Linked DNA regions of Homo sapiens: region 2 is linked to region 1. A link means that fine-mapping ties the variant in region 1 to the expression of a gene that starts in the linked region. Tissue or cell type: cerebellar hemisphere. Region 1 holds a variant in brackets; the other region holds the start of a gene. All regions are shown on one strand. Distances are between the middles of the regions.

Region 1 (5,149 bases):
ATGTATGATTTATTCAGCAGTGTTTTGTAGTTTTCCTTGCAGAAGTCTGTCACCTCCTGGGTTAAGTATATTCCTAAGTATTTTAATTTTTTTGCACTATTGTAAAATGGGTTGACTTCTTGATTTGATTCTCAGCTTGGTCACTGTTGGTATATAGGAGAGCTACTGATTTGTGTACGTTAATTTCGTATCCCAAAACTCTGATGAATTCATTGACCAGTTCTAGGAGCTTTTTAGATGAGTCTTTAGGGTTTTCTAGATATATGATCATGTCATCAGCAAACAGTGACAGTTTGACTTCCTCTTTACCAATCTGGATGCCCTTTATTTTTCTTGTCTTGTTGCTCTGGCTAAGACTTCCAGTATTATGTTGAATAGAAGTGGTGAAAGTGGGCATCCTTGTCTTGTTCTAGTTCTCAAGGGGAATGTTTTCAACTTTTCCCTGTTCAGTATAATGTTGGCTGTGGGTTTGTCATAGATGGCTTTTATTACCTTAAGTATGTTGGGGACACATTTTCTATACTTTCTAATTTTGATGAATTTCCTAAACATAGACATATACTTTATATTTTCTGTAGAGTAGAATGTGAAAATTAATAAAAATCCATAATAAAATGAACAGATACAGTAATACTAATGTCTTCTATTTTTACAAAGCAATTTATCAGCATTACAATGGTATAAATAATGGAAGAGATAAGATAGTTAAATGTAAATAACAGCAAATTAGTTAAGATGGGTTTGAGGTCCAAATTAAAGATTTTAAAGACTTTGATAAATTTAGCAATCAAATTATTTACCTAAAAAATACTGTCCAGTAAAGAAATAATAAAATTTATTTCCATACAAGCACATCAAAAACTTTATCTGGTAGTTTGCTGGTTACTATTGAGGCAGAGTGAATCACATTAATAGTTTACATTTATTCAGTTCTTACCAGAGCACAGATTGTCTCACTTAACCCTCACTGCAACTCTGTAAGGCAAGTATGCATATTACCTTCATTTTATGTATGGAGGAACTGAGGCACACAGATTTAAGTAACTTGCCAATATCACATGGCTAGTAACTGGTAAAGTCAGGATCTGAACCCAGCATTCTTATCCCAGAGCCCATGGATTTAATCTCTCCATCACAAGGCAATGCTGTTTTGCTAGGCAAGTAATGTAGTAAGTTTTTATAAAAAGGAGCAGCTCTGGGAAACTGTGATTATCTGGAGTGAATAGACTGGGTATTAACAAATACATCCTATGCAGTCTTGCCCTCACTGACCCTCCCTTCCTCCTGCTCCCTGCTTCTCCCTGAACTCCAGCTTTGGTGGCTCCAAGAAAACCAAGCATGATCCCATCCCATAGAACTTGTGTTCAGGAAATCCCTTCTGACTCGTTGACTAAATGAATAAATGAATGATTATCATTTTAACCAAAATAACAGCTTATCACAATGCCTAAACAGAAGCTTGTCCAAGGCCTTTGAAATGTTGAAGAAGCCTGATGGACTTAGATCCCCTCTATTGTTTGCGGGAGTATTTATTTTGAGGAGGTGCTATTATAACCTTAAAAAACTCAGGAAACTCTGAGTTATACATTTGGGAGAGAATTCCTCTTTGCCAAAGCAGTTAGAAGAAGCTCCCCTCAGGCAATGAGCACATGCAGCCTGGTGAAAAAAGGTGCCTATTTATAACAGTCTCTCCCTACTTTTTCCTGGTGTCACAGGAACCTCGACATTGGAGACAAATGTATATCCTTGTCTTGTTTTCCATCTATCCCCCTGGTTGAGTTTCTAATACTCTTCTAAAAGAGGAAAGTGGGAAGCTGCTCTGGTGGCCTCAGAGACACCCCCTTCCATTACTAGTCTACATAATACAGTTTCCAGGTCAGCTGGTCCAGCTATAAGGGCCACTGCCTCCATCAACCCAACCTCAGGTAGACATTCCAGCAGAAGCTGGCTTGTCATAAATCAGAAAAGACTGTGCTAAGTGAGTCAAACCTAGATTCAATTCAACTCAGGCAAACAGGCTCACTTGAGTCACTCAAAAAGTATGAGTTTCCTTGTCTGTCACTGGGTCAAAAAAGAGTTACAAAAAAATCAGTTGTTATGTATTTGTTTAGTGTGTAATAGAAAAATGTATCCAACATAACAAGCTTGTGTTTTCACAGATACTACTATCAGAATAACACCATATTTGTTTTTCTCTCTTTTTTATTGAGAAATAGTAATTGTACATATTTATGAGCTTCATGTGATATTCTGGTACATGCATAACGATGATCAAATCAGGGTAATTAGAATATCCATCACCTCAAATATTTATCTTTTTTTGTGTGTGTTGGAAACATTTTAAAGCTTTTTTTTTCCTAGCCTCAGCCTCCCAAATAGCTGGGATTATAGCTGTGCACCATGCC[G/A]GCTAATTTTGTATATTTAGTAAAGACAAGGTTTCACCATGTTGGCTATACTGGTCTCAAACTCCTGACCTCAGGTGATCCATCTGCCTTGGCCTCCCAAAGTGCTGGGATTACAAGTGTGAGCCACTGCACCAGGCCTCTAGCTCTTTTGAAATATACAATAAATTATCGTTAACTGTAGTAACCCTACTATGCTGCTATTGAACATTAGAACTTATTCCTTCTACCTAACTGTATGTTTGTACCCATTAACCAACCTCTCTTCATCCTCCCATGTTCCCACCCTCTGGTAATCATCATTCTACTGTCTAGCTCCATTAACAATGAATTCTCCAGAGAGAGTCAGGACTTCTGATTTCCATGGCAACAGAGAGGTCTCCTGTCACTGGACTTTTAAATCATGAGTCAATTACATGCTAAGAGAGTAATAGTCATTTTCTTTATGAGAAAATTTGGATTCTTACTGAGGTAGATGTGTGGTCGATGATTTCATTTTTTATTTCTGGAAGAAATAATATGTGTAAACTTTTTATTTAAAAAAATGAAAAGAGCCTCTTTTTGAACTGAAAAACTGAGTTACTTATCCTTATACAATTTTCTGAAGGCAACATTGGATTTTAATTATTATAAGCTATACACTATCAACACAGAACCTGAGATATAAATAAGTTGGAATTTATTATGTGAGGCTTAGTTTCTTCCTCTTTCCTTTTGGATCTCTCTATCTGTAGTGTGTGTATTCCTTGTGCTCTGGATTCCTTGTGCTAAGCACATGTGGTTCAGGGTCATGTCTTGCCTTCTAGAGGCAGATCCAGAAACCAGTCTCTCTTTCCTATTCCCAGTGCCAACTTACGTGAGGTTGGGATTCCCTTTGCACCTAGTCAGATGCAGGTATCTTTGAAAGAGGGAGTGTCTCTATGAGCTCTACGCTTGGAGAGAAGCATTAGAAATCCCAATTGTGACTTGAGGTCAAGCCATACTTATTAATTTAGCTTCAGCATATATGGAGCTAATATTTTTATAATCTGTCTGACTCCTATGTCAATTTCCAAATCAGTTCCAAACTCTGAAAAGGAAAATGGCAGGGTTTGCTGTGTTTCATTTTTGTTTTTGCCATTTTATTTATTCATTTATTTATTTATTTATTTTGAGACAGAGTCTTGCTCTGTTGCCCAGGCTGGAGTACAGTGGCACGATCTCGGCTCACAGCAACCTCTGCCTCCTGGGTTCAAGCGATCCTCCTACCTCAGTCTCCCAAGTAGCTGGGATTACAAGCATCTGCCACCACACCTGGCTAATTTTTGTATTTTTACTAGAGATATGGTTTCACCATGTTGGCCAGGCTGGTCTCGAACTCCTGACCTCAAGTGATCCGCCTGCCTCGGCCTTCCAAAGTGCTGGGATTACAGGGATGAGCCACCATGCCTGGCCCTGTTTTTACCATTTCAATATACTAAATACACTAAACAGGAAACAATGTGAAGTCACCTATCTTTGTACATTCTTGGGAATCCCACCATTAAGGATTTCTCATTGGCCTGCCTTTCTTCCTACTTAGTGTCCAGTTTTCCCCTCGCCTTCCCTCATTCTCTGATTTTTACCCCTTCCTTCTAGGATTGTTAAATTTCTGGAAATCCAAATACTTTCTCTCTGTTCTACAAAGTAGTGCTTCAGCTCTTTCCTGCTCCTACTCCCAAACTTGCACATTCAAACCCATCAAGGGGAGGTGATAATATGTATAAAGAGCAATATAGTCTTACATGAACAAAGGGAAATTTACAGGTTCTTTATGTATAGATAAACTGTTGGAGATTATTCCATTCCACAGTTAGAGAACTGTGCTCTGTTTAACCTCTCTGCAGATTAACAAAATGGTATAAAACCCTCATTTCATCTCATAACTGGACAATCTGGCAGTCTTCTTAAAGATTTCTTAGCAATATCTTCCAGTCCAATCTTGCACAACATCAAATTATCTAATGTATAATACTAACTTTTCTTTCTCAAGTTCTTCAGGAGTTCATCATTACCTTCAGGTTGGCACAATCCTTTACTTGCTATTCAGAATTCATCATAATGTAGTTCCAGATTATAATTTCTAGTTTTATCTCCCAATATTATCTATGATAAATCTTTTTCTCTAGTCAAAATTTGTGGAAAATTATTTTTACTTTCCACTATTATCCCCTTGACCATACTCATTTTTCTAATTCTATCCAGCTTAACTTCTACTTCTTTATGAAGACTCCCCTGAGCAATTCAGCCAGTCATTTCACTTCTCTGAACTTTTGTACCCTTTTTACCATAACAGGAAATCTTCTAGATCCAGGATTTAGGAGTTGAGATTTTGAATATCCATATGAGAGAATTTTCTTGCTGGAAAATACCTTAGAGACCATCTAATTCAACCACTGATGTTACAGATGAGAACACTGATGTCCAAGGAAGGTAACTGACTTAATGGCAAAACTTAAACTGGAGACATTTGACTTTTAGCCCCATGTGATCTCTTCTCATGGCTTCCTGCTCACCAGCGCTGCACCAACCTCTCCTTACTCTCTCTAGCTGCTGCTTCTGCTGCTGCTATTTGTACATCAGCTGTGCCCTGAGCTTAAGGCATCCCTTTCTTCTTAGAAGCTGTAAGCTTAGCGGATGCTACAGAAATATTCTAACATATGGCTCTTACATTTAAATATTTCTCTTTGTATAATCAGAAGAATTGAAAAAGCCACAAGGAGAAATAG
Region 2 (5,149 bases), 160 kb before region 1:
AAGGAATTAAAATTCTTTGGGAAGTACACATTTTGAGAGCTTTGCTAGATTTAATTTTTTAAATTGAGTCTATCCACAATTTAAATCAGACTAAATTCTAGTAAATGTGTCCTCTTTAAGGGGTGTGAGTTATACGTCTGAAACATATTTAACTGTATTTAAAAGAGTAGCATTATACAGTGTCAAATCCTCATAAGCATCTAGAATTATAGGTAATGAGCACTAGGACAAACAAAAATACCAAGGGCTCTAGTCCTCTATTGCAGTCAATGTTAAAAGTGTACAAGTGTCTCACACATCAAAATTCATTTCACACCCTCAATCACTCATTCTTCTTGCACCTTGTCTTTGAACTATTAGAAGCTAGTGAATTTAAATCAAAACATTATTTTAACTATAAAGGCTCAACGTCTACAATATATCATATTTTAGGGAAGGAAGGGAAGAAAAGGGTTAAGGCAGCTAGCTTATTACTCACCATGCAGATTTTAGAACTTAGAAATCAAAAGCTAGAAGGAATTTACCATCTCTAAAGTGTTACTTGCTTGTTGATATGGAAATGCTCAGATTGAACCAGATGATTTTTAAGGTCTCTCTAGGCCACAGCATTCTATTATTCTAGCTATCTTAAATCTGGAATGCTTATCCCGGAAGAAAAAGCAGCTGGGAGTACTAGGTCAGACAGCACCTGGTTATTTACTAGTTGTGCAAGTTTCTTAACCTCAGTAAGGCTGCTTCCTCACATATATAAAAGGGGTTAATAACATCTATCTGGCAAAGTTATGGAAAAGACTGGAGATAATATGTCAAATGCATTACAAAGTGCTTGACAGGTTTTTCATAATATAGGCAGCTATTACCTTGCTCTAGCTCTACTACTCTTTTGCCAGGGATAGTGCAATGTAGGATCAACTGTGCCAACAAAATTGGGGCAAAGGCAAGGAAAGTAGTAAAGCCACAGAACAGATTTACATTTCAGCACCAATTTGGTATGCATATTAGAAAATTATTTTTGTTTTCTTTTTACAAAAGAGAATGTTGTTGCTACCGTGACCGTAAACACCAGATTGTTTATAATTCATGTTGTGAAATTTACATCTGTTCACAGATTTACTGAGTTGGCATAACATGGGTGATGACTGTGGGAAACGGCCCAAGTTCCTTAGTACTGACACTTCCTTGATTGTAGAATATCGAGAGGTAGTCAACTTTTCCCCTTAAAGTATATTTAAAACATACTACTGTGACTACAGCCATAACAATATCCCCGCATCTCTCCTTGATCTACAGCTGGTGCTTCCCATTTTGAAAAAGAGTGAAAACCCCCCAACCCTAGGTTTCTTGTGGTCTTGGCAAAGTCTCAACGCCAACTGGCGATCTCCATTTCCCCCGCGGGCTGCCAAGCCCAGGACAGTCCTTTCAGGGAGAAAGAGGGCCGGAGGGAACTGTGTTGGCAGCTCTCTGGGTTGAAGGACAGGAAAAGGAAACTCCCTTCTTGGACTCCGAGGGGAGGGTGAGAGACGAAAGGAAAGGGTGGGGGGTAGTGCAAGAATGGCCTGTGTCTCGGTTACCGCAAAGGACTCGCAAGCCTCCGCCAGCCCCGGGGTGGAGGCCACAGGAGCACTGACGTCGTGGTATCAGAAAGGCGGACAGTGCAGCCTTAGTGTTCCCCAGGGGTGGGAGGAAGCTCCCGGCCCCGTCCCCACCCCGCCTCGCTTCCCAGGGAGCGGCGGTTGGGCAGGAGCGGGGCAGAAATCCGCCGCCGGGCCCGGGGAGGGGACCAGGCCGCGCCCATCTCCCAGGCCTCTGGCTGCAGCAGGCCCGCTGGGTGGTCGGCGAGGCCCGGGGGCGCCGCGTCGAGCTGCGGTCCCCTCCCTCAACCTTCCCGGGCGCCGCCACCCCTTTTCCCCCCAGCACCAGGGTACCTGCACGGCGCGACTGAGGAAGGTGCCTGCGTCGGCCGCCAGCTTCTTCACGTTGAAGTCCATGATATTCATCCTAGGCGGCAGCCGGGCGGAGCCGGCCGACCTAGCGGCGGCGAGGCGGAGGTGCCGCGGCCGGGCTGGGGCGCAGGGCTAGAGCGGCGAGGGCAGACGTGGTAGGTGGAGGGAGGCGGCGCCAGCCCCGCAGCCGCAGCTGTCGTTTCCGTGAACGGGGAGGATGAAGGCGGGGCGAGGGAGGAGAACAAGCGCGCGGCGGCAGCGCCAAGGATGGGTCAGTCGGCTCGGAGAACGGCCGCTAACGTCGACGATGGGCCCCGCGGGCGAGCCGGAGATGGACGGGCGACCCCGCCGTGTGGACCCGGGTCCCAAGGGAAAAACAAGCGCGGGCCGCGGGGCGGAGCCTTTCTCGAGGTTATCGCGGGAACAGCGACCCCTTGAGGATTGCGGCGGCGCAGCCCCGGGGCGCGCCGGGAGCTCCGCCCGGCTCCTGTGGAGGAAGCGGCGAGGGCGAGCCGCGGGGTCTCGGCGCCTCTGTATGCTTGCACTTAACGAGAACCCAGAGCGAACACGACCCACATTTCTCTTTTTGTTTTAAGAGGAAATATAGGAGTTACAGCATAGAATTACAATATCTGGACATTAGAAATAACAGGTCCCGGTCACGGTATGGCACCGCGCGACACACTTGGTCCCTGAGGCCTGGATGCCGCTCAGCAAACGTTCGCGGAATAGGGTTGGGTTTACTGTCCCCCACCGAGCCGGTTGCTCATTCATTCAGCATAATTGAATACCTCCTGTGTGCCAGGCACTGAATCAAGTGTCGGAGACAATGTCCTGCCCTCAAGCTCCTGGCCGGTTACTTGACAACCTTCCGGGACCTCAACGCTATGTGCCTACTGTGTGAAAGCAAAGTGCCAGGTGGAGGACACAAAGATGGCGAGCGACACAGGATAGTCCTTAACAATTAAGCGTGACTAATTTTAATAACAAATGAGAATATGATGTGACATCCGTTCCAAATCCTGTCGTTCCAAGTAACTTCTTAAGCATCTTTCACGATACAGCCTCTGCTTGAAAGGAATTAAAACAGGTACAAGCATGGAAGGAGACGTTGCTATCATATTTCAAGAATAAGAAAATGCTGTTTTGTGTGGTTGTGCAGCAGGCAATGAAATGAGCTTACATTCAAGCTTCCGTGTTTTACTGAAACAACAGTCACAGATGCAGTAGATGTTAAAGGTTGAAAGACGAGTGCAGTAAAAGCATTATGAGGACAAGAAGAAAACGTAAATATTTGTGTTGTTTCATTCTTTGTTGTGGTGGCAGAAACAGCCCCCTCTTTCTAAGGTAACTCCAATATAATGATCTCTCCCAGCTTTGAAATACTCCATGTCTGTTTCATTTTCCAGAAATATGGAAAAATGAATATATAATAAAAAACCCTATTTCTCATTTATTGTCTATTTTAGATCTTTATGTGGAAAAGCACTTACTCTCTTCCCAGAGCACTGTTTTTAAAGTAGGTATATTTGCCATAACCTATGCTCGTCTCTACAAAAGGATCACACCACCGTGTCCACCATTAAAGGGGAAATTCTTTAATGGTGGACACAGTGGTGTCCCTGAATCCTCATCCTCAAGTGTTTCAATCTTCCCAGTCTTGGGAAAACAACAATGTTACTTCTTTCTTTTGCACCCTCTGTAGCTGTAATCCTGTTTCCCCATTCTCCATAAAAGACTTACCTTATTTTCATATATCCTTATTCTTAGCCTTTGACACTTTTTTTTTTGAGACAGAGTTTTGCTGTGTCACCCAGGCTGGAGTGCAATGGTGTGATCTCAGCTCACTGCAACCTCTGCCTCCTGGGTTCAAGGATTCTCCTGCCTCAGCCTTCCAAGTAGCTGGGATTACAAGCATGCATCACCACGCCCGGCTAATTTTTTATATCTTTAGTAGAGACAGAGTTTCACCATGTGGGCCAGGCTGGTCTCGAACTCCTGGCCTCAAGTGATCCGCCTGCCACAGCCTCCCAAAGTGCTGGGATGACAGGTGTGAGCCACCGCACCCAGCTGATTCGCTTTCTTTACAGAGAAAATATAAATCATCACTCTGTTTGGCAGAAGCCTCTTCAACCAAATTTCCTTATTTCCACCTCCTGTTCTCTCCACACTCTTTCCTGCATCATTGCCAAATGTTTCAAAGGAATAGGTGTCTCAGGTGTTCTGAGTAGAGCCACTGCTCCCTTAATCTTGGCTGCACATCAGCATCACCTGGAGAGTTTAAGCAACCACTGATGCCTGGATCCAGTCCCAGAGTGTGGACTGGGCATTGGGATGTTTTAGGAGTTCCTCTAGGTGTTCTTAATGTGTGACCAAGGTTGAGAACTAATTTGTCACCCTCTAGAACTTGCTCCATCAGTCTCTACCCTTTGCCTACAGACTGATTCTACTTCTCTTACCAGATATCAGTCCCTTAAGGGCAGTGTCCGTTTCCTATTTATTTTTATATATTTTATGGTTTACACAGGCAACATAGTGAATTCCCAAATGATTTAGTAAGTGAAAAAAGTAATCAAATCAAGATGTTTACAGTGCTAAGCTCTTTTGTGACACCATCACCCCCAGCCTAAATTTCCAACTATTTATCCATAGATTCAATATTTCCAGTGGCAAGTCTGTTATAGTTTGCTTTTCCTGAAAATTCTTCTTTTCTTGGGTTTCCTACATTGATAAATTGAATCATACACACCAAATCACCTAAGCCAGAAATCTGAGTCCCCTTTGATTATTTCCTCTTATTTCCCACCACCAATTGGTCTATCCTGGCAATTTCTTCTCTGAAACTGTTTCCTATTTTTCATTTTCATCCTCTTTTTAAAAACAAATTTTTTAACTTGAAACAATTTACAAACTAAGAAAACTGTTGCAAGAATAGTACAAAAACTTCTGTGTACCCTTTGCCTAGAAACCCCACTCAAACTTTGCCAATTATTCCAATGTCTTTACAGCAAAAACGTCCCAGCCAAGAAAGATCATGTGCTGCATCCAGTTAGCTTGTTGCTCAATTCTCCTTCAGTCTGGATCAATTATTCAGGCTTTTCTTGACACTATTCCTTCCCCAGAGTTAGCCACTATTTTTAAATTGGTATGATTAATATCTGTTATGTTTTTGTACTTTCACTGAATTTATATGTATCTATGAATGG

The links. PIP is the estimated chance that this variant, and not a neighbour inherited with it, causes the effect.
Region 2: it holds the start of CLCA4-AS1, and the variant in region 1 is fine-mapped to the expression of CLCA4-AS1 in cerebellar hemisphere (GTEx, PIP above 0.99). The same link has a PIP of 0.9 or more in hippocampus.

What each region holds. Positions count from the first base shown.
Region 1 is chr1:86,539,675-86,544,823 of GRCh38, reverse strand. No RefSeq gene overlaps it. Among named protein-coding and RNA genes, the nearest start is that of CLCA4, 4.8 kb to the left of the region's middle. The variant G/A (reference allele first, on the strand shown) is at 2,406.
Region 2 is chr1:86,701,748-86,706,896 of GRCh38, reverse strand. CLCA4-AS1 (CLCA4 antisense RNA 1) reads left to right here and starts at 2,404. Exons shown (of 5, transcript NR_135837.1): 1 at 2,404-3,290. SH3GLB1 (SH3 domain containing GRB2 like, endophilin B1) reads right to left here and starts at 2,321. Exons shown (of 9, transcript NM_016009.5): 1 at 1,926-2,321. The coding sequence starts at 1,997. RefSeq lists a silencer at 1,668-2,157 and enhancers at 1,982-2,483, 3,048-3,117.